Homo sapiens: one gene and its partner. The protein of the gene in region 2 interacts with the protein of the main gene of each other region in a pairwise test. Each region holds a gene or a part of one and is shown on either strand. Other genes may lie near its edges. The genes, in order: ZMAT3 and DHX9.

Region 1 (3,824 bases), on a different chromosome or scaffold from region 2:
ACCTCCTGGGTTCATACAACTTCTTATTTTAAACGCAAAAAAACAAAAATAATAATACTGATATAATTATCAGATGCCAAAGTGATCTATCATATACTTGTTAGTATCTTCAAGAAAGCCGAATTACAAAGAATAAAACCATAGTTCGTGTATATTTCTACTGGAAACGAAGATAGTGAAACTTTATTTGCTTTTTAAAAAATTCCTCTGTGTATAAAACAGCAGGTGGTGATATTTTTCAGGATGGCCACCAGACTGGCAAGACAGAGGAAAATGTAAGTAAACCGTAAGAATCAGATTATCAAAAAAGTCTGGCAAAACAAAATATCAAGCAATCTGAACTTATGGTTTAGATCATGATATAAGCGCATGTTACTATCAATGAAGTAACTCTAAATTGGAAAATCAAACACACCTTTGTTTCCTAAAAACTGCTGGAAAATATATCTATATATATATATATTTTTTTTTTTTTTTTTTTTTTTTTTTTGAGACGGAGTCTCGCTCTGTCACCCAGGCTGGAGTGCAGTGGCGCGATCTCGGCTCACTGCAAGCTCCGCCTCCCGGGTTCACGCCATTCTCCTGCCTCAGCCTCCAGAGTAGCTGGGACTACAGGCACCCACCACCACGCCCGGCTAATGTTTTGTATTTTTAGTAGAGATGGGGTTTCACTGTGTTAGCCAGGATGATCTCGACCTCCTGACCTCGTGATCCGCCTGCTTCGGCCTCCCAAAGTGCTGGGATTACAGGCGTGAGCCACCGCGCCCGGCCCTATTTTTTGAAATCATATCCATCTTAAACTCATTGAATATTCAAATATGAGGCTTGGAAAACCCACAGCACAGCTGGGGCATGAAAATGGGCTTGTTAGACAAGCTGATTCAACTAGGGGGGAAAAAAGAGGAGGGAAGAAGGCGGCAATTATATGTGTGAAATCCACAACTGGAAATCAAGTTTAGCTGTTTGGAAGTATACAAGCTCATTGGGAGTATTTGAATTCAAGAAAATTTGCGCTTCAATGATGGGGAGACATGATACAGAAAAAAAAATGTCCTGGGAAAGACCCTAACAGTTTCTAATAATGTATCCTACTGACAATGCATTGAGGTGGCGGTTCTGGTTAAGCCCTGGGAAACTGAAATCTCTGCTGACCTATTTTTACTTTGATCTAAAAAGAATTCAATACAATTCTTTAACAGTACATAAAACTACAATTGCAAAAGAAAATGGCAGAAAAAAATGTCCCGGGAAAGACCTTAACAGTTTCTAATAATGTATTCTACTGACAATGCATTGAGGTGGCGGTTCTGGTTAAGCCCTGGGAAACTGAAATCTCTGCCAACCTATTTTTACTGTGATCTAAAAAGAATTCAGTACAATTCTTTAACAGTACATAAAACTAAAATTGCAAAAGAAAATGAAACTTTTAAATAGTCAAAGTTCTAAGCCGTCAGGCTACTAGTTGACCAGAACTTGAGCAAGATAAAAAGTTATTTCTGATGGGGTAGGTAGGTCACATGCTATGAGCGGCTCAACACCATTGACCCTGCAAAAGCGTTATGACCTAAGAAGCACGTTCTTCACACCCACCTCCCCCCGCCCCGCCCCCGGGCCCCCAGGTTTTGACATCTCATGGTACCACTGTGGGTTACATGTATTAACATTAAGCAGAGGAATGTACTCATATCAAAAAGACCACAAAGCAGGGCAAGTTGACAAAAGGCAAACAACAGGCAGGAAAAGCTGCTCTATCTTAATATGATAATCACTATACATATCCCAGATTCTCCATCTCATTCCTGTACCGCTGTTCAGACACCTTGCTCTTATGTTGCTTGCTCTCTAAATGCTGCCGGAATTCCATCTCTTCGCCAGCTCCAACATTACACATTGAGCAGTAAAACTGGCCACTTGGAGTAACACACATGGCCAGATCACGTGGAATTCTCTGCCGAGAGCGGGGATTGAAGTAAGGACCTGCTAAAGCAAGAGATAAAAATAATATATTCAAAATATTCATTAAGTGAATGACAACCTGACCAATTATCACTGTAATTTGTAATTCTAAGTTCAAATTATAAAATTCACAGATTCTTAGCTTTAAGTGAATGTGAAGTTAATGGATTTTTAAAATTACAATTTTACACAGGTTCGATCTAAAAAGATAAAATGATTCCTCCAACCATTGTCAGAAAAATTGCTGTAGAGCCAAACCCAAATTCCAAATGGCTGTGTCTCTAAAAAAGTGAATACGCTTTTAAAAATACTTTAATTTCCAAGCATTATATCAGAAGTCTTATGCTTATGCTAACCCTTTAATCCAAAAATTCTACTTGTAAGAATTATCCTAAGAAAATACTAAGAATTTTCACACTGAGATTTAATAGCAATATGTTTATCTCAGCAGTGATTATAAAAGCAAAAATTTAGGGGGAAGAAGAGATTCAAAAATAGGATTAAAGAAAGTATGGTAATGAATGCAATGGAAAACTATGCCATTGCTAAATATAATAATGCTATAGAAAACTCTTACGCTATTAAGTAAACTATGAATATCCCAAACTAGGATCCCATTTCTATTTTAAAGAAGTCATACATATGAAGAGACTAGAATGAAATCTGCAAAAGTGTTGGTGACATTACTGATCATTTCATTTTCTTCTTTTTACATTACTGACCTCATAAGCTGGACGCTTAGTTCGTTAACTTTATGCTTTTCACTTCCACTATAATAATATATAGGTAATACTTTTCTCAAAATACTGCTTTCACTGCATCCTACAAGTGTTAATATATTTTCATTACTGTTTCACTGTAGGAATTTTTAATTTCCAGTATAATTGTTTCTTTGAACCATGAGTTATTTAGAAGTGTTTTTAAATTGGAAAACAAATGGAAATTTTGTTTGCTTTTCTATTTTTGTTGTTGACATCTCATTTCATTGTACTCTGGTCAGAGAACATAATCTATCCTAAAATTTATTTTTCTGATATTAATACAGCTATCCCAGCTTCTTTCATTTCAGATGGATTTCTTTCATCCAATTTAACATTTTTTGGACTTTGGTAATTTTACATTTATTACAATTATTAATATATGTTTAGACTTTTCTTAATCATAATGAATTGTGCTTTTTTTTTTTTTTTTTTTTTTTTTGAGACAGAGTCTTGCTCTGTCACCCAGACTGGAATGCAGTGGTGTAATCTCAGCTCACTGTAGCCTCCACCTCCCAGGTTCAAGCGATTCTCCTGCCTCAGCCTCCCAAGTAGCTGGGATTACAGGCGTATGCCACCATGCCCAGCTAATTTTGTATTTTCAGTAGACACGGGGTTTCACCGTGTTGGCCAGGCTGGTCTCGAACTCCTGACCTCAGGTGATCCACCTACCTCAGCCTCCCAAAGTGCTGGGATTACACGCACGAGCCACAGGAGCCTGGCCTGAATTGTGCTTTCTATATGTCCTTTTTTTAGTAGGCTTCTCTGGCTTTTCAGTTAGCTCTGTTTTCTATTTGTTTCACTGTTCAAGTAAATGACCTCTGCTGGCATGTGCATGAATCAGAGGCTGAAGTAGAGGGGAGGGTGAGGGACTACTCAGCCCACTCTCCCTACTGAAGACAATCAGAAAATGCAGAATTTATTCCTATAAATCAGTGTTTGTGAACTAAATGTGTATATCAGAAGCATCAAGCAAGCATTTTCAAAACACACATATGTCTGGGTCCTACTCCAAATTTATTCATTGAAAATCTCTAAGTCATGGTTCAGGCATTTTGTAAAAGCTCCTTGGGTAATTCTGTTTCACTAGCCTGGTTAAAAAACACTGCT
Region 2 (3,824 bases):
TCAGGAAAATGTAAACATTAATTGGATATCTCATTATATTGACACTATTCTTAAATTTTTCTTTTAGGTTTGATTATAATACTTTTTTTAAAAAAAGAATTATGTTTTAGTTAAAAACTGAAATATTAACAGATGAATAAGATGTCTGGGATGCTCCAAAATAATCTAAGAAAGGGGAGTAGTTAGAAATGAGTAAAATTGAAAGTGTTGCAGCCAGATGACGGAAACATGGAGTTTCACTATATTATTCTTTTATACACATCTACAATTGTCCACAGCAAAAAAAATTTTAAAATATCCTCTACATGCTCACTTTTGGCAAATGCAATTTATGGCATGAAAGGGTAAGTTCCAGATGAAATAAGTGATTATGAAAAAGGATTTCCCTAGAATGAGGAGGTAAGATAAAGATGGTAGCTGGTAACAGTTTGGTTACGTATCGCTGCCCAAATGTCATGTCAAATTTTAATCCTCAATGTTGGAGGTAGGGCCTGGTGAGAAGTAACTGGATCATGAGGTGGGTTTCTCATGCATGGTTTAGTACCACTTTCCTTGGTACTGCTATCCTAGCAACAGTGAGTGAGTTCTCATGAGATCTGGTCATTTAAAAGTGTGTGGCATCTTCCCCTTTACTTTCTCTTGCTCCTGCTATGTAGGACATCCCTGCTTCCCCTTCACCTTCTGCCATCATTCTAAGTTTACTGAGGCCTCTTCAGAAGTCAAGCAGATTCCAGTACCACACTTCCTGTAAAGCCTGCATAATTGTGAGCCAATTAAATCTCTTTTCTTTATAAATTATGCAGTCTCAGGTATTTTATAGCAATGCAAGAATGGACTAATAATACAGTGGGGTTAAAAGTAGAAATGGGTTGTTATAATTTTTTTTTCCAAATTCATCCATTCATTTACTCAGTCAACCAAAAAACATTTAAGTATCTGCTATAGACCAGGAACCATTCTAAATGTTGGAGACACAGCAACGAACTAAAAACAAAAAAATCCCTGCCCTCACGAACTTACATTCTAATACAATGAAACAAAAATAAATTACGTTGGAACAAGGTTTCTCATCTTGGTGACATTTTAGGCTGGTTAATTCTTTGTTGTAGGAGTTTGTCAAGTGCATTGTAGGTCATTAGCAGCATCCCTGGCCTTCACCTTCTAGATGTCAGTGGCCTCCTCGAGTTACAACAACAAAAATATCTCCATACATCCCCAAACATCCCTTGAGGGGACAAAATGGTCTCCAGTTGAGAAACACTGAGTTAAAAAGTAAGTGTTACGGAGAAAAATAAAGCATTGAAGGAGTTTAGGAAGTAACCTGAGGGTGACAATGTTTATAATGTTAAATAGGACAGCTGGGGAAGAGTCCTTCAGGTATAGAAGTTTTGAGGCAGAAAGATGAGGGCTTATTTGAAGACCTATGAAGAAGTACAGCTACTGTAGCTGGAACAGAGGAAATAAGGAAGAAAGTAGGAAATCCACAGAGCATTTAATAGGAAACACCTGAGCCATGTTAAAACAATAATAAAAAAATCACCTAGGGGATTACTTCTGGTTGTAGCCAAGTAAGTTCCTGTAAGACTGACCCTCCTGCAGGTAAAATAAACTTTAGGGGGAAAAAATACAAACACACACACAACACACCAGAACTATATGCAGGCAATAAAAAATGAACGAAAAAAGCAGGTAGATTCTTGAGAGAAGTTAAAATGGGGAAGCACGGAGTATCAAGGGTCTAATTCCAGTTTACTGTAGCTTTTAGCCTGAGAGAAGCCATCCCAGGCAGCTAAACCTCCAATGAAACCATCTTTTTGGCCTGAAGAATCAGAATTAGAGTTCAGGGAAAGCAAAGCTGCTAGAAAGTGAGGGAATGCTGGAAAGGAAACAGCCAGAGAGGAGGAGCCCCGAATTCTGTATATTGAAATCTCTGGCTAACCCTTGAAAACCACTCATGTACAGGGCAGATTCCAAGCTGCCCAGCAAAGGAGACCTGAAGGACTCTTCCATGGCTGTCCTAAATGATCAGAAAACTGAGGTGAGATCTGAGTTAACATCCAAAAGACAGCATTTGCAGTTTGAGTCCAGTTAAATTAAATGCCTGATTAAAAACAAAACAAAACAAAACAAAAAAACCAAATCAATGCTCTTTGGAGGAGTATAACATTATTCAGAGTCTCCACAGCATAATATTCCAATGCCCAGAATGCAATAAAAAATTATTTGATACACAAAGAGGAAAATGTGATCCAACCTCAAGAAAATATACCTATCAAGAGAATCCAACCCTGAGATGACTCAGATGTTAGTAGTAGTAGGCAAGGATTTTAAAGCAGCTATTAGAATTAAGCTTCATGACATAAAAGAAATCCATATTTATATTACAAACATACACTTATAACGAATGAAAAGAAATGCCACCAGAGAAAACATACAGAAAAGAATAAGCTGGAGATTTTAAAAGTGAAAAAGGTAGTGTCTGAAATACACTGGGTGGGCTTAGCAAAATGGAAGGGACAGAAAAAACTATCAAAGAATCTGAAGATAATCAATAAAAATTATTCAATTTGAGAAACAGTGGAAAAAATGATAGGAAAAAAAAAAGAGAGCCTCAGGGACCTGTGGGATATCAAGTCTTTATAAATATAAACACCAAGAGGAAAGAAGAAAAAATAAAACAAAAAATATCTTAAATAATAGCTAAGTCTCTCAAAGTTGGTGAAATACATAAATCTATGGATTCAATAATCTCAGCAAACCTTGAACAAGTTAGAACACACACATACAAAAAAACCCATGCCCGGTCACAACACAAAATACTAAAAACCAAAAATAACAGGAAAAGATCTTAAAAACACAGACTACCACATTACATATGGGAGAGAGTGATTTGATTATAGCTGACTTCTTACAGAAAACAGCAAGTAGACAGTGTCATATTATCTTTAAAGCCTATCTGGTCTCTGGCTGGACTCAGTGGCTCACGCCTGTAATCCCAGCACTTTGGGAGGCCAAGGCGGGCAGATAACCTGAGGTTGGGAGTTGGAGACCAGCCTGACCAACATGGAGAAACCCCGTCTCTACTAAAAATACAAAATTAGCCGGGCATGGCGGCACATGCCAGTAATCCCAGATACTCCTGCCTGAGGCAGGAGAATCGCTTGAACCCGGAGGCAAAGGTGGCGGTGAGCCGAGATCATGCCACTGCACTCCAGCCTGGGCAACAAAAGCGAAACTCCATCTCAAAAAAAAAAAAAAAAAGTACATCTGGTCTTCAATCCCATTTCCCTGGCATAGAAATCCTAAATCCTTATAATCTCCTAAGTGGAGACTTTCTGTATGCTAACGAGTTGACTGCTGGCTGGCAGGCCCTAGGTAGCTTCAGGTGTGGGGGGATGGTCACCAGAACCACCAAGGAAAGATTAGAGGGCTGAAACTTTCGGTCCCACCTCCCAGCCTCTGGGGAAGTGAGAAGGGCTGAAGGTCAAGTCACCAATGGCCAACGATTTAATCAATACTGAATAATGAAGTTTCCATAAAAACCAAAGGACAGGGTTTGGAGGGCTTCCAAATGGCCGAACAGGTGGAGGTTCCTGAAGAATGGTGTTCGAGGCAGGGCATGGGAGCTCCCTGCTGCCTCCGCCATATCTTGCCCTACTTATTTCACCAACTGTATTTTGTAGTATTCTTTATAATAAACTGGTAAATGTAGGTTTTCCTGAGTTCTGTGAGCCACACTAGCAAATTAACTGACCCCAAAGAGGCAGTCATGAAAACCATAACTTGAAGCTAGTCAGTCAGAAGTTCTAGAGGCCCAGACTTGC

Evidence for each region.
Region 1: the proteins of DHX9 (region 2) and ZMAT3 interact in binary tests that used the Homo sapiens proteins (3 or more experiments, as listed by UniProt).

Annotation. Positions count from the first base shown.
Region 1 is NC_000003.12:179,023,249-179,027,072, forward strand, and holds part of ZMAT3 (zinc finger matrin-type protein 3), read right to left. Parts: intron 1,981-3,824; coding exon 1,769-1,980; 3' UTR 1-1,768. UniProt on the Homo sapiens protein: Acts as a bona fide target gene of p53/TP53. May play a role in the TP53-dependent growth regulatory pathway. May contribute to TP53-mediated apoptosis by regulation of TP53 expression and translocation to the nucleus and nucleolus.
Region 2 is NC_000001.11:182,845,675-182,849,498, reverse strand, and holds part of DHX9 (ATP-dependent RNA helicase A), read right to left. Parts: intron 1-3,824. UniProt on the Homo sapiens protein: Multifunctional ATP-dependent nucleic acid helicase that unwinds DNA and RNA in a 3' to 5' direction and that plays important roles in many processes, such as DNA replication, transcriptional activation, post-transcriptional RNA regulation, mRNA translation and RNA-mediated gene silencing.